Linked DNA regions of Homo sapiens. The protein of the gene in region 3 interacts with the protein of the main gene of each other region in a pairwise test. Each region holds a gene or a part of one and is shown on either strand. Other genes may lie near its edges.

The links. The genes of interacting proteins can lie anywhere in the genome.
Region 1: the proteins of YIPF1 (region 3) and CNR2 interact in binary tests that used the Homo sapiens proteins (3 or more experiments, as listed by UniProt).
Region 2: the proteins of YIPF1 (region 3) and CMTM2 interact in binary tests that used the Homo sapiens proteins (3 or more experiments, as listed by UniProt).

Annotation. Positions count from the first base shown.
Region 1 is NC_000001.11:23,869,994-23,875,379, reverse strand, and holds the end of CNR2 (cannabinoid receptor 2), read left to right. Parts: coding exon 1-845; 3' UTR 846-4,865; downstream 4,866-5,386. UniProt on the Homo sapiens protein: Heterotrimeric G protein-coupled receptor for endocannabinoid 2-arachidonoylglycerol mediating inhibition of adenylate cyclase. May function in inflammatory response, nociceptive transmission and bone homeostasis.
Region 2 is NC_000016.10:66,574,687-66,582,483, forward strand, and holds the start of CMTM2 (CKLF-like MARVEL transmembrane domain-containing protein 2), read left to right. Parts: upstream 1-4,776; 5' UTR 4,777-4,921; coding exon 4,922-5,206; intron 5,207-5,339; coding exon 5,340-5,498; intron 5,499-7,797. Other genes in the region: CKLF-CMTM1 protein, read left to right, coding at 2,418-2,516, 4,145-4,315; CMTM1 (CKLF-like MARVEL transmembrane domain-containing protein 1), read left to right, coding at 2,418-2,516, 4,145-4,315.
Region 3 is NC_000001.11:53,886,798-53,894,040, reverse strand, and holds the start of YIPF1 (protein YIPF1), read left to right. Parts: upstream 1-4,243; 5' UTR 4,244-4,328; intron 4,329-4,577; 5' UTR 4,578-4,797; intron 4,798-5,054; 5' UTR 5,055-5,103; coding exon 5,104-5,134; intron 5,135-7,243.

The DNA.
Region 1 (5,386 bases), about 30 Mb from region 3:
ACTTCCTGGCCAGTGTGGTCTTTGCATGCAGCTTTGTGAATTTCCATGTTTTCCATGGTGTGGATTCCAAGGCTGTCTTCCTGCTGAAGATTGGCAGCGTGACTATGACCTTCACAGCCTCTGTGGGTAGCCTCCTGCTGACCGCCATTGACCGATACCTCTGCCTGCGCTATCCACCTTCCTACAAAGCTCTGCTCACCCGTGGAAGGGCACTGGTGACCCTGGGCATCATGTGGGTCCTCTCAGCACTAGTCTCCTACCTGCCCCTCATGGGATGGACTTGCTGTCCCAGGCCCTGCTCTGAGCTTTTCCCACTGATCCCCAATGACTACCTGCTGAGCTGGCTCCTGTTCATCGCCTTCCTCTTTTCCGGAATCATCTACACCTATGGGCATGTTCTCTGGAAGGCCCATCAGCATGTGGCCAGCTTGTCTGGCCACCAGGACAGGCAGGTGCCAGGAATGGCCCGAATGAGGCTGGATGTGAGGTTGGCCAAGACCCTAGGGCTAGTGTTGGCTGTGCTCCTCATCTGTTGGTTCCCAGTGCTGGCCCTCATGGCCCACAGCCTGGCCACTACGCTCAGTGACCAGGTCAAGAAGGCCTTTGCTTTCTGCTCCATGCTGTGCCTCATCAACTCCATGGTCAACCCTGTCATCTATGCTCTACGGAGTGGAGAGATCCGCTCCTCTGCCCATCACTGCCTGGCTCACTGGAAGAAGTGTGTGAGGGGCCTTGGGTCAGAGGCAAAAGAAGAAGCCCCGAGATCCTCAGTCACCGAGACAGAGGCTGATGGGAAAATCACTCCGTGGCCAGATTCCAGAGATCTAGACCTCTCTGATTGCTGATGAGGCCTCTTCCCAATTTAAACAACTCAAGTCAGAAATCAGTTCACTCCCTGGAAGAGAGAGAGGGGTCTTGGCACTCTCTTCTTACTTAAACCAGTCCCAGACACCTAGACACGGACCCCTTTTTGCTGATGAGTGTTGGGACTGACTCCTGGAAGACAGCCTGGCCTTGCCCACCTGCACACAGTCTGTTGGATAGGTAGGGCCACGAGGAGTAGCCAGGTAGGCGAGACACAAAAGGCCTGGGACAGGGTCAGTACAAGTCAGGTCAGGCTTCATGCCTGCATCCTCCAGAGACCACAGGAGCCAAAGCGAGCCTCCAGGCCCAGCAATGAGGGACTTGGGAGAAATCTGAGAAGAATGGGTTGTTCTCTTGGGAAGTCAGGGTATCAGATGGGATGGACATCCAGGTCTTCTCTCTGCCTAATTGTCAAGGCCTCCTTGGCTCTGGAGCTATGAAAGGCCCCACTTTCAAGTCACCCTTGCCACTGAGGACCGAGGACTATGCTATGATGAGGATTAAGGTGTTGACTTGCCTCTTTCAGAGATAAATGACAAGCCTTCAGTTTGGGGCATCCTGTTGTTTGGGCGAGGACCCTCTCTGATATTCTGATAATCCCCACCTGTAACCTCAGGTCCCTGGAAATACAGAGGAGGCTGGGATCGCCTGAGACACAAAAATCTTTGGAGAATTTTCTTGACCCTCTGAAGTCCTTCCAGCAGCAGTCCTGGTGGTGCTGCTGGAAGCAGGCAATGTCCTAGTCTAACCTAACTCGAAGAAAAAAAGGAAGATATTCACAAAGATTGTATAAATCTCCAAACTGTTCCCCTATCTGCCCCCAATTCAGCTCCCTTGCCTCCTCCACACCCCTATTACATATAATAAGCAGAGCAAGTGGGAGGAGGGGAAATGTCCTTCCTATATGCCAGGTATGGGGCTGACATTTCAGTCTATTGACCCCAGCTAGAATATAGCTCCATGATTTTAAAGATCTCAGGGGCCAGGCATGGTAGCTCATGCCTGTAATCCCAGCACTTTGGGAGGCCAAGGCAGGTGGATCACCTGAGGTCAGGAGTTTGAGACCAGCCTGACCAATATGGTGAAACCCTGTCTCTACTAAAAATACAAAAATTAGCAGGGCATGGTGGCAGGCACCTGTAGTCCCAGCTACTCGGGAGGCTGAGACAGGAGAATTGCTTGAACCCTGGAGGCAGAGGTTGCAGTGAGCCGAGATTGCACCACTGCACTCCAGCCTGGGTGACAGAGCAAGACTGTCTCAAAAAAATAAAATAAAATAGATCCCAGGGTACTCATTTTTCATATGAGGGAGGCTGGGTTCCTCCCAGAGGAGCCTAAAACAGCCAACAAGAGAAATTGTTGGCGGCAGGAAGATTGCAGAGGAATTCTAATGCAATTATTTGGGACCTCAAATGGAATAAAATGAAAGATATTGGTTAAACATGTCTTCGTTTAATACTTTCAAGACAAAATATCCACTAGCTATTCACTTATTCATTCATCTCATAAACATGAGCCAGGCTCTGTGCAGGGTCCTGAGTACCCAGCCATAAATGAGACTGTGCCCCTGTCTCATGGGGCTTACAGTCTATATCCTGCTTGCAAGACAGCCAATAAGTCAATAAAGAAGATAATTACAGGCAGTACAACAAAGGAAATATGCAGGTTCATGTCATGTAATAGGGATTAATTGAGTTAACTCAATAAACGGTAGGATAGACCTACCATGTGCCGGCTCACTTTTATTGAGCCTTTACTATGTGCCAGGCAGGGGGCTAAGTGTTTTTAAATGCCTTATTTCACTTCATGTTTCCCAACAACCTAATAAGAAGGTCTTAGTTATCTTCATTTTACAGATGTGGCAACCTCAAAGATGCAAAGTCACTTGTCTAAGGTCACCCTGCTAAGTACCAGAGCTGAGGTCTCCAACCTAGTTCTGTTTGACTTCAAAGCCTGCCCTCTTAACCACTAACCTTTTGTCCTAGTTCAGTCAAATTCTGCTTGATTATTGCTCATTAGGGATAATATTAGCTATCTGTAGCATCAGATTGCTGCAAAGTTAACTCATCGTAGATTCTCAATATACTCCATTTTATTAAATGGCCCCGTATTAATCTCCTGTAATAAATTTCACAAATCCAGTGGCTTATCAACAGAAATTTACTGTCTCATAATTCTGGAGGCCAGAAGTCAAAATCAAGATGTGGTAGGGCCCTGCTCCCTCCAAAAGTTTAAGGGGAGAATTATTCCTTGACTCTTTCAACTTCTGGCAGTCCCTGTCATTCCTTGGCTTGTGGAAACATCACTCCTACCTCTGACTCTGTCTTCATATGGCATTTCCTCTGTGTCTCTTGGTGTCTTTTTTTTTTTTTTTTTTTTTTTTGAGACGGAATCTCATTCTGTTGTCCAGGCAGGAGTGCAGTGACATGATCTTGGCTCACTGCAACCTCCACCTCTCAGGTTCAAGTGATTCTCCTGCCTCAGCCTCCCAAATAGCTGGGACTACAGGCACCCGCCACCACACTCAGCTAATTTTTGTATTTTTAGTAGAGATGGGGTTTCACCATCTTGCCCAGGCTGGTCTTGAACTCCTGACCTCAAGTGATCCGCCCACCTTGGCCTCCTAAATTGCTGGGATTACAGACGTGAGCCACCATACCCGGCCTGGTGTCTTTTTTAAAGAATATCAGTCACTGGATTTGGGCCCACCCTAATCCTAATAGTATGACTTCATCTTAATTTAACCAATTATATCTGTAGAGACCCTGTTTCCAAATAAGGTCACATTCACAGATTCCAGGTGGACAAGAAGTTTAGGCGGACACTATTCAACTCAGTACAGACCCAGGAACAAAGTCCACCCACTGGGCTGTGTTGAGTGGCAGTCACTAGTTTATCCTCCCTCAACAAGATGAGCTCCAGGTTGACCTCTGCATCCCCAGTGCTCAGTCAGGACCCAGCAGAGCATCTGAAGGGATCTGGTCAATATGTGTGGAACTGAACTGTTTCTGAAAAGCTCTGACGTATGTTTTGGAAAATCAAATCTTGTTTTAATCCAGACACCAATCTTTTTGTAAGGCAAACAAGTAGCATAAATGTTTAAAAGTGAATTTGCATGTTTATATACTGTCATTCCTTAAAGTTGAAGCATGCCTTTCTTTATTCATCGGTGGAATCCTTTCTCATTTTGGCAAAGAAAATGCCCAAGTGCCTGGCACAAACAAGCACTGAGTAAATACTTCTTGAATGAATAAAACTAGATTCTAAAAATCATTTGATCAAACGCAACTCCACACTTTCTACTTCTCTTCTTTTAGAACCACACTGTATTTCTGCTTTTTTTTTTTTTTTTTTTTTTTTTGACATAGAATCTCACTCTGTCACCCAGGTTGGAGTGCAGTGGCATGCAATCTTGGCTCACTGCAACCTCTGCCTCCTGGGTTCAAGCAGTTCTCCTGCCTTAGCCTCCCATGTAGCTGGGATTACAGGTACCCGCCACCATGCCCAGCTAATTTTTGTATTGTTAGTAGAGATGGAATTTCACCATATTGGCCAGGCTGGTCTTGAACTCCTGACTTCAAGTGATCCACCCACCTTAGCCTCCCAAAGTGCTAGGATTACAGGTGTGAGCCACCACTCCCAGCCCCTATGTCTGCTTTAAGTGGAGAAGCAGAGCTTATGAGGGAGGAGAACAAGGGTGCAAAAGGGACCTAGATATCACTGAGAACTGCCCTTGTTGTTTGGTTGAGGAAATGGGCCCAGACAGTGGACAAGACTTGCTCAGGGAGACAAACGAGATGGTGTCCAGTGCAACAAACCTAGGTTTCCTAACTTCCAGTTCTGTCCACTCTACATCAGTGCCTCTCACCTGTCCCTGCAGGTTCACATTTTGGTTATGTGGATAAGGAGAAATAAATTGAAGATCACAATGTCCCATTTTATCTTCCCCAAGACAAGCTCTGTAACATTAAAGACCACTATGCAAACCGATTACTAGAAAATGTGTGTGGATGGGTTCGGTTTTTTTCCTAAGGTGTTCATGCTTACTGTTTTGGGCAATATTTCAACATAATCTGGCAGAAAAAGAAACAGAAGATAAAGAAAATAGCTGTAGGCCGGGTGCAGTGGCTCATGCCTGTAATCCCAGCACTTTGGAAGGCTGAGGCTGGCGGATCACTTGAGGTCAGGAGTTCGAGACCAGCCTGGCCAACACGGCGAAACCCCATCTGTATTAAAAATACAAAAATTAGCCAGGCGTGGTGGCGTACCTGTAAACCCAGCTACTCGGGAGGCTGAGGCAGGAGAATGGCTTGAACCCAGGAGGTGGAGGTTGCAGTGAGCTGAGATTGCAGCACTGCATTCCAGCCTGGGCGACAGAGCAAGACTGCATCTCAAAAGAAAAGAAAAGAAAAAAGAAAAGAAAAGAAAAGAAAACAGCTGTGATTCAGCAATAGTCATTTTCTCTCCTTGTCACTGCCAGAGTGAGGAAGTGCTGGGTTCTGTCAACATAGGCTCTGACTTC
Region 2 (7,797 bases), on a different chromosome or scaffold from region 3:
CAAAGACTGGCTGGGCCTGGTCTGTGGTTGGTTTATTATTATCATTAATGATGTGCGTTTGTTCAAATTCTTGTAATCTAAGACCACAGCTGGTTAGTGGTCAGAGAAACTGAGCTCCGGTTATATAGATATTTTGGCCAACAGAGAGCAATTTTTAAAAAAGAATATTTGACTTTTGAAGTTTATACTCTGCTTCTCAGTTGTAAGAATCCTTGTTCACATCTTTGACTACCTTGGTTTATACAATCCTCAGGTGTAAGCTTCCTGCAAAGCTGCAAACCACTGTACCTGCCTCAGTCAGGCCTGCCCACTATGGGCAGACCTCTCGCTCAGCCTGCAGAACCCAGCTGGGACTTACTTCCAACCTCCACCAGCCCTGCTACATACCCCTGTTCCAGCATTAACTACCAGGCACCAAAACAGTAGGCATTAGTGCCTTTCCAAGAGGCAAGTCACATTCCACAAGAGGGCTCCTCGGTCGCCAGCCCCAATAGGAAGAACATCTGGAGTTTGCAGAGAGTTTACTATCTGTTAACATTTTGAGGGCAGATATGAACCTACATTTTGATGCACTCCCACCAGCTACTAGATGCCAGGCATGTTATCAGATGCTTTCAGATTCATTATGCCATTTAATCCTCAGAGCCAATGAACCTCAGTCATTATCCCCATATTACAAATTAGCAAGTTGGCAGATGGGTGATAAAATACGCCCAATCTAGGAATTGGCAGGCCAAAAGAGTTCATCAACAAAAATACTCAACTGACTGGTACTGTATCATTTTGACCCTCCAGACCCATTCCACAGAAAATGCCAAAGATGGATTGGATGCTGCACTTCCAGACTGGGAGAATAGCTCATTTCCTCCTTATTTGGGTGTCCCTCATGGGAGGCAATAGTGAGTTGAGTTCTGATTCCACCCATTATTCAATCCTAGGCAACTGAAAAACTCCAAGCCTCCACCATGTCCTCTGTAAACTGGGGATGATGGCAATTCTGACTTTGGAGGCTGCTTTGTGAGGGTTAAATGAGGTTAAATGATGGACTGGGAAATGCTTGACACATCAAAGAGCTCCATTGGAGCCACTGTGATTCCATGATACCATACACTGGATGGCAGTGCTTCTTGCTGTGTTTGGACGAGTGTGCCAGAAAGGCTGCCATTACCAAGGCAGACCATCAACACTCAAAGACTTGAGCTATTCAGATTAGCTCTCTGGCCCATATTGTGGTTATGTCCTCTGGGCTTTTGCCCATAGCCATACACTGCTGCCACTGACACACTGTGTACTCGTTCCTCCATTATTGTTTTGCTAAGGAAACCCAGCCACTGCTCACCCAGGAGGGCACTGCCACGCACTCATCCTCACTATTCATTTCAGCACACAAAGAAGCAGGTTGGGCTAGCAGTTAAAGAACTCAGGACTGGCCGGGCGCGGTGGCTCACGCCTATAATCCCAGCACTTTGGGAGGCCGAGGCGGGTGGATCACTTGAGGTCAGGAGTTCATGACCATCCTGGCCAACATGAAGAAACCCTGTCTCTACTAAAAAATACAAAAATTAGCTGGGTGTGGTGGCAGGCACCTGTAATCCCACCTACTCAGGAGGTTGAGGCAGGAGAATTGCTTGAACCTGGGAGGCGGAGGTTGCAATGAGCCAAGATCGCACCATTGCACTCTAGCCTGGGTGACAAGAGCGAAACTCTGTCTCAAAAAAAAAAAAGAACTCAGGACTGAAATCCAATTGAAACCCAGAAGAAGGAGCACAATGAGCCTGCAGATGTCGGGGCACACCCAATTCTGGCCATGTTTCAGGAAAGAGCAAAAAACATTCACTCCAGAATATCAGGCCTGCTCCTCAGATGAGTTCATATGCTCTTGGGACACATGAACTCACAGAATAAATGTGGCCCAATTTCCAGAGCGTTGGCTTTACCTGCAGATTTGGGAGAAGAAGTAAACCAATAATTAAAGTGCTCATCTAAAATTTTATTTTTATATTAAAACAAATGAGTTATGGAATAGAATGCAGAATTTACATTAAAAAATATAAGACTTCCCAAAAAAAATCACATTTATGGAGGGCCAATTTGGGATAGGCCCCTTGACCACCAGGTTTTTTCATGCTCACTTTCCTATTCCCTTTAAGGAAAAAGTTGTTAGCTTTTTTTCTAATGGTATTCTTTAATGAAAATAAACCCGTTTCTACAGACAAAGTCATATCTAGGATCTTAAAACCACATAAACTCATGTCTCTGGACGATGTAAGAATTATGCCTCTGAAGGTTCCTCCTCATCTTAATCAAATGGAAGGTTTTTTAAAGGCATCTATTCTTAGATGTGTAATTGACCAGTTTAAATATTTGTGAAATTATATTGTTGTGTAAACTTGATAATTTTCAATTCTTTATTACAGGATCTTACCAACAGTATCATTACAGCTGTGTTCCTTTCAGTAGTTGCCATCTTGGCCATGCAAGAAAAGAAAAGAAGGCATTTACTCTATGTCGGGGGGGTAAGTAGAGGCCTTCATGACTCCATTTAAGATCAGTATTCCAAGACTTTGAAAAGGGAAATTGGCAGACCCCATTATATCATTAACCAAGCAAAATCCCCACTGCCACCCACTCTCCTTCTTGCACTGACTTCTTCAGGTGATATGAAGTTGCACAAACTCTGAGCTCATGAAAATCTTAATTCTAACATGCATTCTCCAAATAGGTACAAAAACAAGAGTCTGCTAAACCCCTTTTGAGAATTGTGGACACTATTTTTGAAATGTTAAGCAAGATCTTTTTGTCTATAAATAGGACTTTGATTTTCTGGACTAGAGAATTGTATTTTAAAGACAGATGATAAGAGAGATTGTAAGGGGGGAAAAGTGCACTGTCTAAAGTGAGGAATCCAGCCTATTCAGGAAGGAAGGAAGGAAAGAAGGAAGAAAGGAAGGAAGGAAACTGCCACATGTTGAAGTGCCCAGTATATGCCCTGCACCAAGCAGGGCACACTCTGACTTAATCTTTACAACTCTCATTTGTACAGATATAGGAACTGAGGTTAAATACCTTGCTCTGGGCCACAAGACTGGGACAAATTGGGACTCAAAAGAAATGGCAGATCAAATGCTTGGAAGATTCAGGGGGTTGGGAGGGGAGGTAGGGCTTTGGTTCAAGAAGTTAAACAATGAGAACAGAAATTAATGCAGAAAAAGAGTTCATTTGAATTCATTCTATAATCAATAAATATCTGTCAATCCCATTGATTGTGCCAGACATGAGCTCAGTGCTGGGGATAGAGCCCTTTCCCCTTTGGGGAAGCTCACAGATTCACTGGGGCAAGACATACCTAGGAAAAGCTCATTAAGCAGCCAGGAATTAAGTGACCATAAAGAGAAACATCCAAGGTTGTCAAGAGTCCCGGAGTGCACAGGGGAATATCTGTGCCATCAGCCCCTGGTCCCCATCGGCTGACTCCGCTATCACTCCTTCTACTGCCAGGGGTTCCCACCCCCAGGTATCCATTTCTTACCTGGATGGCAGCATCCCACCCCACCACGCACTGGTCTTCCTGCCTCCAGCCTGGTTCACCTTCCATTCACCTCATGAACACTGCAAGCAGGTTTTCTGAATCTCACACCTGACCTCCTGATAGAGTCCCAGATCCTGCACCTCTCCAGCCTCAACTCTGCCCCCTTCTCAGCGGCTCTGGAGGTCCTGGCCACACCAGATTCCTTAGAGACCCTAGTCCAGTGCCTGGGTCCTCCTCCTCCCCTTAGGAACTCCTTCCTGCCCTTTGCAAACATAGCCCAAAAGTCTTTCCACGGAGAGGGCTTCTCAGGACCTAACCCCTACCTGCAGCCACCTAGGGCCACTGCCCTTCCCTAGTCCTTTCCGGGTGCCTCAGACATCAAGCGAGGCTACTACTGGCAACAAAATCCCCCACTTCCAAAATCCCTTTTTCTGGGAAAGGCAGAATCCGCCTGCAGCAGCCAATTGGGCAGGCGCCAAGAAAGTAGTGAAGGGTCAGAGGGGACAGGAGGCCACCCGCAGCGCCCACCCTGGATAGGGATAGGTTCGAGAGGTTGCTACTGAGCTGCAAAATAACCCCGTCTTTCCTTCCCGCATATGGTCTTGTATCTGACAGTCCCTGTGTCTCACAGCGGTAATCGTGTGTTGCATCGATGCGTTTGTGGTCACCACGAAGATGAGGACCAACTTGAAAAGATTCCTGGGAGTCGAAGTTGAAAGGAAGCTTTCCCCCGCCAAGGACGCCTACCCCGAAACCGGCCCCGACGCCCCGCAGAGGCCCGCCTGAAGCCAGCCCGGCGCCCTAGCAGATGCACGTGTCTGTCGAATCGCTGCCTCCGAGCCCACCCCCGAGCTCGCATGCTGTCACCCATTCCAGCCTAAATGTGACCATAAAATTAGGGCTGCTGCTTTTATCGAGAACACCTGCTTCCTCTCGTTGCCTTGTGTGAAAGTCGCGTTGTATTTTCCTGCGCTTGGCGCTGCGCCCGCGGAGCTCAGGGCCGTGACCCGGTGCTCGCAGCCCCCCGACCCCGCAGCGGAGCGGCGGCTTACAGACCTGGGGCCACCTGGAGACGCCGGGATGGGACCGCGAGGGCAGCTCCGCGCGGAGGTGGGACCGGCGGGTTGGGAACGGAGTTGGGGCCCGTCGGGGGCCGGCGCGTGGAGGGTGGGAGGATCCGGCCGCTGCCGGGCGGATGGGAGCTGCGCGAGGAGACGGGCGCGCGTGGAGAGGGCGCGGGAGTTGGCATTCGGTGGTCCTGGCAGTTAGCTGAGCACGCCCTCTGAGCCGCTCGGTGGACACCAGGCACTCTAGTAGGCCTGGCCTACCCAGAAACAGCAGGAGAGAGAAGAAACAGGCCAGCTGTGAGAAGCCAAGGACACCGAGTCAGTCATGGCACCTAAGGCGGCAAAGGGGGCCAAGCCAGAGCCAGCACCAGCTCCACCTCCACCCGGGGCCAAACCCGAGGAAGACAAGAAGGACGGTAAGGAGCCATCGGACAAACCTCAAAAGGCGGTGCAGGACCATAAGGAGCCATCGGACAAACCTCAAAAGGCGGTGCAGCCCAAGCACGAAGTGGGCACGAGGAGGGGGTGTCGCCGCTACCGGTGGGAATTAAAAGACAGCAATAAAGAGTTCTGGCTCTTGGGGCACGCTGAGATCAAGATTCGGAGTTTGGTGAGCTAAACTGGTATCCCTGGGTGGGGGGCCTTGGCCGAGGGTGGGGGGAAGGAGGAGTAGGCTCCAGGGGTCCTCAGAGAGATGGTGAAAGGCCCTTGCTGCTGGCTCAGGTGTCTATGTCTCACTGCAGGGCTGCCTAATAGCTGCAATGATACTGTTGTCCTCACTCACCGTGCACCCCATCTTGAGGCTTATCATCACCATGGAGATATCCTTCTTCAGCTTCTTCATCTTACTGTACAGCTTTGCCATTCATAGATACATACCCTTCATCCTGTGGCCCATTTCTGTAAGTAAGGGGTGATGGGGAGTGCCTGCATCCAGAATGCTGATCAGGTGTGTCTTGGCACCTGGAAAGTCACCAAACAGAGAGACACACCTCACCTCCCATATCTGTGCCTGGGTCAGGGACTCAGAACATCAGTGGGGCCCAGGCAGAGGCAGCTGGGTGCAAGAGGGGTAGCTAGGCAGAAAATGCTCCAAAAAGCCTATCTGTGTGTTGGAGTGAGAGTGGGGAACTCTTACTTACCTGGTGGTCAAAGAGGGCCTGAGCCTTTGTTCTCTTTAGGGGAAGGGGAGGTGTAGCAACCAGCTGTTCCTCCGAACTCCTGTGCCAGCTCACACTTGACAGGAGATCACCCCAGAAGGACCCCATTCCCAAAATTCAAAGAAGAAAATTACTCTCCCATAAGTCAATAAAATAAAACAAAATGGGAATTTTTTTTAAAAATCACTTCTAAAGCAGCGTTAGGTCTCCAGTGAATATCCCTATAAAGGATGTTTGGATCAGAAGGATGTTCAGCCCAAAGCAGTCATCTAGTGGAAAGAGACAGAACTGGGCAAGTTACTAAACCATTCCCAGCCTGTTTCCTCATCTGTAACATGAGACAGTCACATTCCTTGCAGAACTGACATTCAATCCTGAGGATTAAATGTAAATTGCTTGACACCGTGCCTGAGGACTCATGGAATTGAATCCCTGCCCATCACCTGTTTAACCACAGGGCACAACCACCTAACCCCTTGCCAGTCAATGAAGACCCCAATTCCCAAGTCCCTTTGTTCATTGCACATTCACAGCCTGCCTCCAGAGCCCTCTTGTTCACTGTTTCACTCACGTTACACATGAGGAAATTGGCCTAGAATGGCCAAGTAACTTGCCCCCAGGTCACTCAGCTGGTAAGTAGCAGAAAAAAGCTTCAAACTTAGCTTTATGAGTACATTTCATCCTGCCTTCTTGTTAAAAACTATTAGGGTCCAGGGATCCAGAGGTCTTGGTGAAGCAGATGAGGACCTCCGATACAGGGAGAAAGGACAGGAGGGCCAAATAAGGACTCTCAGAAAAGGGACAAGCAGAGGACAAGGTAAAAGGACAGGCAGAGGACAAGTTCCTAAACAAGGAGCCTGAGAAGACATTTTTAGTTCCAGCAAGATGAAAAACCAATGAACCCTGAACATCTTCCCACTGTGCTTACCTAAAAATACCAGGGGAAATGTAACCAGTATTGCTTTAACTGAATGAATGAGCTGGCAAAAAAGAAATGAAAACACACAGGCGCCAGAAATGGCAAACAGGGCAGTGATCACATAAGCTACAAAGTATGAGTGGGAATGGTCCAAGAGGTATTGTCTCAGGAACCTACAGCCTGGATTTTCATGCACTCTCAAGTCAGGAAATAAGGCCTTGATCCTAAGCAAAGTGGGAATTTAGAACTGAAAACCCTGTATAAAGCCAGCGCCCTGGAAAGACTACCTCCTTAGGGAAAAGATGGACAAAGACACATACCCTTCTTATTCCCAACACAGAGGAATAAGAAAACATGTTCATCTCTGCCTGAGCTTTGAGTGGGCGGAGAGGAAGTCTTCCTTGAGAAATAGAAAGCTTAAGCCTGCCCTTTGTACAGATTGGAGTTTGAATTTTTGTTATCTGCAGCCTAGAAACCTTCATGCAGCCCAGAAACCTTCATCCCTGGGAATTACCATAAAAACTGATCCCAGTCTGATGACATTCTGCTGATATCCTTGGACTCCTGATAGAAACAAATGCAAAATCACAATCAAGGCATGAAGAGATTCTCACAGTGGGGGTGGGGGGAAAACCTTGTCAAAAATGAACTAATAATTCAAAACTACTAAACACCTGATTTTAAAAAATCCCCATTACTAAGAATCAACAAACACAACAAATGGATTAGAATCCTGAGAATATGAGATAATAGAAGAGCTGTCTGAAAATAATAATATATTTTAAGGGATTATAGACATAAGAGTCCTGAGAAAAGAGTAAGACACTATGAGGACAAAATAGACAGATTTTTAAAAAGTACAGTGTCTAGAATAGAAAATATAGTTATTGAAATAAAAATGTCAATAGATGAATTCAAAAACAGATCAGACATAGCTGAAGGAGGGAACTGTTAACTGAAAGGTATGGGGAAATTACCCAGAACACAGCACACAGAGAGAGAGAAAATAAGAGATTGAGACAGAACAATGAGTGAGAACATCCATCAGTGGTTGTTGGGCTGGGTGTGGTGGCTCACACCTGTAATCCCAGCACGTTGGGAGGCTGAGGTGGATGGGTCCCT
Region 3 (7,243 bases):
CCAGGTGCACAAAGGTCTGTTTTAATCATTATCATTTCCAATTCTTTGCCTGAGCTTTTGAGAGATTCTTGGATTGGTAGATTCCACATCTTAAATTCTCCCTCTGATTAATTTTTTAAAAAACAAGTACTTAAAAAGACCACACTTAAAGAGAACCTGTTAGATGCTCTCTCACAAGTCAGTAGATTTGGCTATTAGTTATTCTTTATACACAAACTCTTCTTTTACTAATGAAAGATGTTTTTCCCAACAAAGATCTTTGTTTTCCCAACAAACATCCATGGTTTTTTGTTGTTGTTGCTGGAGATGGAGTCTCGCTCTGTCGCCCAGGCTGGAGTGCAGTGGCACGATCTTGGCTCACTGCAACCTCTGCCTCCCAGGTTCAAGCAGTTATCCTGCCTCAACCTCCTGAGTAGCTGGGATTACAGGCGCCTGCCACCACGCCTGGCTAATTTTTGTATTTTTAGTAGAGACAGGGTTTCACCGTGTTGGTCAGGCTGGTCTTGAACTCCTGACCTCAGATGACCTACCCGCCTTGGCCTCCAAAAGTGCTGGGATTACAGGCTCGAGCCACCGCACCCGGCCCCCAATCATGGCTTCTAGCTGGTGGTTGACTATTTCTGTAGTCAGAGCCCTCCCCAGGGGATATGGATCTCAAACCTCCCAGGGCAGAGACAGAAATGGGACCATTTCTAACAAAACCTGGGGCCTGCAACTCCCCTTAGCACTGGGCATAGAGTGACAAATAAAACACCCTCTTCTCTCAAGGAAGTCATGGTCTAGTGCGGGGAATAGACAAGTAAACAAAAAACTACCATTTCCTAAATGAAGTCCAGAGGCGGAGGGTGTGCGTGGGCTACGAGAGCAGGGAGAAGGGGAAGCTAATTCTGGTTAGAGAAGTCAAGAGGACTTCACTGAGGAAGTGATTTCTATGCTGAAACCAGAAAGACGGCAAGCAGTCAGCTGGCTAAAGTGGGGATAGTGTCCTGGTGGAAGGAACCACATGGCCAAAGGCCCAGAAGCCAGAGACAGCATGGCTCATTGGAGAAACTGAAAGAAGAATCATAGAGCTCAGAGTTGGGAAGTGTTTTAAAATACACCCAAGACCTTTTTTTTTTTAAATAATTGAGACGGGGTTTCCTTCCTCTGTCACCAGGCTGGAGGGCAGTGGTGTGATCATAGCTCACTGCAGCCTCAAACTCCTGGCTCAAGCCATCCTCTCACCTCAGCCAGAGTAGTTAGGACTACAGGAGTGCCACCCAAACCCGGCAAATTTTGTGACTGTTATAGCTTCTCCTTATGTTGCCCAGGCTGGTCTTGAACTCTTGACCTCAAACAATCCTCCTTCCTTGATCTCTCAAAATGCTGGGATTATGGGAATGAGCCACCATGCCCAGCCCCCAACTTCTTAAAGTAATCAGGGCTGATTTTCCCCACCATGTGTCACTCTTTATTTATTTATTTTTGAGACAGAGCCTCGCTCTGTTGTCCAGGCTGGAGTGTAGTGGCACAATCTCGGCTCACTGCAACCTCCGCCTCCCAGGTTCAAGCAATTCTCCTGCCTCAGCCTCCCAAGTAGCTGGGATTACAGGCGTGTGCCACCATGCCCAGCTAATTTTTGTGTTTTCAGTAGAGATGGGTTTCGCCATGTTGGCCAGGTTGGTCTCGAATTCCTGACCTCAGGTGATCCGCCCACCTTGGCCTCCGAAAGTGCTGGGATTACAGGCGTGAGACACCGCGCCCAGCCGGCACTCTTTTCTTTACCTGCTGGTGCAGTGGTATGAGAAGCCAAAAATGCCTAAGTGGTAGTTACAGCTTCCAATTCAGTGGAACTGTAACTGGAATGGAAGTGTTCTCTCTCCGCCTTCCCTGCTTCCCTGGGACCAGGATCTCCAACCAAGCAGAACTTAAACTTGTGACGCAGGAGGCACACATTCTATGTGTGTAGGTTTCACTGAAAGTGATAGTAAGAAGTGCTACCCCTTGGTTTGCAAATCTATAGGTATTTAGAACAAAGTACCATTATAAATAATTGATAAACCATTGGTTTAGTACATGTACTACATGCCGGAGGACAATGCCCCAGTCTCCTGAGTATTTTCCCCAACCTGGAGCCCTAACTGTGCCTTTAACAAGCCATTCCACCATCCTATTAGGCCACCTACTATTGGATGACTGAGTCACATGGTAAGACCAGTGGGTAAGACCCATGGTTATGTGTCACTGTTGCATGTTCTTTACAATTAAATTGGTCCCTTAGTCCAAAGCAATGTTGTGCAGGTAATCATTGCAGGATCCGTAAGCAAGAGGACTTTGCTTTCCTTTAACAAGGGGGAAAGGACTACTTCTGCCACAGCCACCTTTCCCTTGAAAGATTCAAGGGAAACTGGAAACGAGGGATGGTCAAGTCTCAGGCTTTCCTACCCAAATATCCTCATCCCAGTTCTCAGGTTCCCATTCATTTTCTGACAATGCCCCAGCTTTGATGGAGGAGACCTACAGAGGCTGTGCATTCAGTCTTCGTTGAAACTTTGCCACCCTTACAATTAGATCTTGGGCCTGATTTTCAGTCCAGTCTTTCTCAAGGCTATAGAAGAATAAGAATCTTCAAAGCTGCCATAGAGGCTCTCTAGCTTTCACAAAGTGCCTCAAGTTGACAGTTGGCTGTTCTAAGTCTGTCATTTTATTTTCAAGGTTTCCAATGGAGTTAAGAACACCCAGTCCATTCCATAGTCCTTATAATTACCATTGTCCTCTTAATGTTCCTGTGCCACAGCCACTAGATAACTCAGCACCTTATCTTCTACCTGCACGTTATCCCAATCAACTGCAGACAGACACCTTAGTAATTGTGATGCCATTCTATTCTAAGTGTTATCACACCACCACCACCCCCCTCCTTCTCTCTCCCCTTAACACCAGCAATATATTTGTTGTTGCCATGTGACTGGTGCGCAGTTCAGTTAGAAAATGCCAACCTAAGGTTTTATTTTCTGGGGCCACTTTTGGTACCAACATGCCTTCATATTGCTTCCTCATATGAGTAGTTTATTGGCAAGTATGAATCCAAGCACCAGGAGTGAAGTACAGGGCTTGTATATCAGGGAAGGAAGGAGACCCATTGCGAAGATGCATTGTCAAATGCGTCACTTCCAAAGGCATTTGGTTGCTTAATCCTGCTAGGTAGTTTGAAAGCTATATGAAAGGGCGCCTGAGGGGGAAAAACAGGAAAAGCATATATTCATCAAGTGTTGACCCCATTGGTCAGAGATTTGCCTCATGAGACATTAACAACTCTCTACCCCTACACTTCTGGGATGCACCTGTCTGGGTGCTGATTGGCTCCAGCAAGGTCCCATGGCCCCATCGCATGAAGAAACAAGCCTCGAAGCAGAAAGTGAGAAGCCTGAGGCATAGACTGGAGGCAAGCTCACTCAGGTTATATCTGCTGACGCTGGAATAAGATGAGTGGCGGTGAAATAAGCAGCAGGTGAGGCCAAGATGATCTGAAATGGGACATAAGAGGTGGCTGATATACTAGCACAGCTGAATTCATGAACTGAGATTCATTCCTGGTACATACTCAACCAAAAGTGCCCTGCACATGCTCTAAGCCTCAGCTTTCTCTTTGTAAAATGAGGATAATCACCCCAAGATAGCAGGATTGTTCTGAGAATTAGAGATCCTGCATGTACAAAGCCTGATCATGATCATCTTGGGGAAAAAAATACACTATATATGGCTATTATTAGATGTAAAGTCTTTCCAAGCGCTCACTTACTGGGGGTGCTCATACGAACAGACATCGCGCTTTCGATCACTCATTCAGAATGTAATTGACTCATCATGTACTTTCTCACCAGTGAAATTTTTGTGGCCAAAAGAAACTGAGGGACTGGTGACGCGGGTGACTTAATTTTTTCTTTCACAATCGTCTTTCATCACCCGATTTTATATTTCCTTAGGAAAAGAGGTATAAACACACAGTAAGAAAACCCTAAACTCGAGAATTTTCTACGTTCCCTGGAGCAAGGCCAGCCCAAGTAGTCACACTCAGCGACCCCACCACTCCGCCCTCGCCTGTCTCTTTAAGAACTCGAGGCTCAGCCTCGGGAGAAGGGCGGGCGGGAGCGGGCTCTGCGCGCCGCAGCACGCAGGTTTCTCTGGGAGCTGCTGTCTCTTTAAGGAGGCGGGGCTCTTCCCGGAGGAGGCGGAGAGGTTCCGCCCCCCGGATCTCCGGCTTCCGGCAACTGGGCTGGACCGAAACCGGCGCGGAGCAACTGAGGCCCGAGCCTTCTCGGGACCCGGGGGACGCCTAACCCCGCGAGGTGAGGCTGCCGAGTTTGCGGGACCTGTACGAGGCTAAGGGGGTTCAGGATCTCCTGCCCGCCCGGGCCGCCGCGGCCCAGCTCCTCTCCCTGAAACACTGCCTCTGCTTCGCGGTGTCCCGGGCTGCAGGGTCGCCGACACCCCATTGCCTACTAATTGCCTGACTCCGCTCTAGGCTCCTTACACGCACTCCCATTTAATGACCCCCGCACTGTGTGACTAGGTATCGTTATGCACCCATTTTACAGATGAGGAAACTGAGGCCGCGAGGAGCGCGCATACAGCAGAGAAGCAGCAGAATCGGGAATCAAACCCAGCTCTGTCTGACCCCAGAGCCTGTGCCTTTAACCACTGGCTAGGCTGAACTGCCTTTGTTCTTCACTGTCCCCATCACCTCTTTCAAACCTCAGCCTCTCCTTCCTCATCGTTACATCTCTAGGCTGCACCTGCTCTCTAAACATTCACACAGTGAGTTGAGATTCATTCCTGGTACATACACAACCAAATAAGGTTGAATTGGAACCTTTGGATCCCCGGGGTTAGTTTCTTTGTTACAGTTTTAATATTTAATAATACCTGATGCTTAGTGGTTATCTTTATATAAACCTATTAAACCCCACTGAAAAGGGAGGCAAGGGAAAGTGATACCATTTCTAATACATAAGAGTTGTTTGCAGATACTTTATACTGTCATCCTATTATGTTTACCTATTTTTTTCTTTTAGAACCCTGCAAATTTTCTTCCTCATAATTGGGAGAAGACTCACTGGCCGAATGGCAGCAGTAGATGACTTGCAATTTGAAGGTATACCAGTTGGGTGCCCACCTTTATATTTATGATCACTGTTGCTACAGTCACAGCAAGTATTTTCATTCCTATACTGCCTCACACATTGAAGGATATTATTTCAAACATCTTGGTGGCTGTTGGCCACATCCAGGTGTTTCCTGTTTGTCCACACCAGCTGTTTTTGTTTTTGTTTTTTTTGCCAGATAACCCTTCAGATTGGTAACGAGTATCATAAATTTAGTACAGTGATTACAGAAAATGCTTACACAGTTCCTGCTTTAGTTCAGAAAACATTTATTGAGCACTTACTTTGTGCTTAGAACCGTACAAGATACTGGAGACAAAAAGATGAAGAAGTTTATCCACTGGTGGAGTAGATAAAAATGTAAAAAGATCATTAGGATGAAATGTGATCAGATCATTCCCTCATTGAATCAGTAAATATCTCCTGGTTGTGACCAGGAACCGGGCAATTGTTCTAGTTATCAGGGATAGAAGAGTGAACAAAATAGTTTCCTTGTGAAGCTCTCAGTCTAGTGAGGGGGACATGTATTTATTAAATGATCATTTAAATATATACCTACAAACTATGAAAGTGCTGGAGGAAAAGTTCAAGGAGATATTAGGACTCATAACCCAGAGCCTGACTTAGGCTAGGGATTGATGAACACTTGTTTGTTTGTTTGTTTGTTTCTTTTGATGGAGTCTCACTCTGTTGCCCAGGCTGGAGTGCCTTGGCTCGATCTTGGCTTGCTGCAACCTCTGCCTCCCGGGTTCAGACGATTCTCCTGCCTCAGCCTTCTGAGTAGCTGGAACTACAGGTGCCCGTCACCACACCCGACTAATTTTTGTATTTTTAGTAGAGACGGGGCTTCACCATATTGGCCAGGCTGGTCTCGAACTTCTGACCTTGTGATCCACCCATCTTGGCCTTCCAAAGTGCTGGGATTACAGGCATGAACCACCAGGCCTGGCCCACTTACTTGTTTTATTAACACCTTACCTAACATTTACTATATGTCAGGCACTGTTCTAAATCCTGTACAGATAATCCTTATGTCAACTTTATGAAATAGTTACTTTATTCCCCTGTTTTATTAATGAGGAGACTGAGGCACAGAAAAATAATTTGCCTAATGGTCACGCAGTTAGTAAGGGATAAAATCAGGATTTGAACCCATCCAGTCTGGTATCACAGCTTATGCTGTCTCTGTTATCTAAGGAAGAGATACACTGTTTAAAGATAAATCTATTTCATTTGCAAGTACTAGAAATCCACCTCAATTTGCAAATACTGTCAACCTCGTCTTCAAAATTCATCTAGCATCTGACCACCTCCACCACTACTCTCACCATGCTCAAGGTCACTGTCACCTTTTTTCTGAATTATAGCCTTTACCTTCCTTCTGGTCTTTCTGCTTCCTCCCTTATCCCTCTACAGTCTGTACTTTGCAGCCAGAGTAGTCCTTCTAAAACTCAAGCAGATCATGTCATTCTTTCAGAACCTTCCAGTAGCTCCCATCTCACTAGAAGAAAAAGCCAGGCTGGGCGCAGTGGCTCACACCTGTAATCCCAGCACTTTGGGAGGCCGAGGAGGGCAGATCACCTGAGGTCAGGAGTTCGAGACCAGTCTGGCCAACATGGTGAAACCCTGTCTCCACTAAAAATACAAAAATTAGCTGGGCATGGTGGTGCACGCCTGTAATCCCAGCTACTCTGGAGGCTGAGGCAGGAGAATTGCTCAAACCCAGAGGTTGCAGTGAACCGAGATCGCACCACTGTGCTCCAGCCTGGGCGACAGAGCGAGACTCCATCTCAAACATAAACAAACAAACACAAAAACGAAAAAGCCAGAGCCCTTACTGTGGCTTAGGAGGCCCCTATATGATGCAGCCTCCAACCCTCTGATTTCATCTGCTGCTCTCGTCCTTTCTGTCTCTGCCCAAGCTGCATGGGCTGTCACGGTTCTTCCTATGCACCAAGTACATTCACAGCTTGGGATGTTTGTGCCATCTTTCTGTGTGGGACATTCTCCCTTCAGATAGCCTTATGGCTTGCTTCTTTGCTCTGTTCAAATCTCTCCTCATTAGAGAGACCCTCCTCAGCCATCCTATCTAGGAGTGC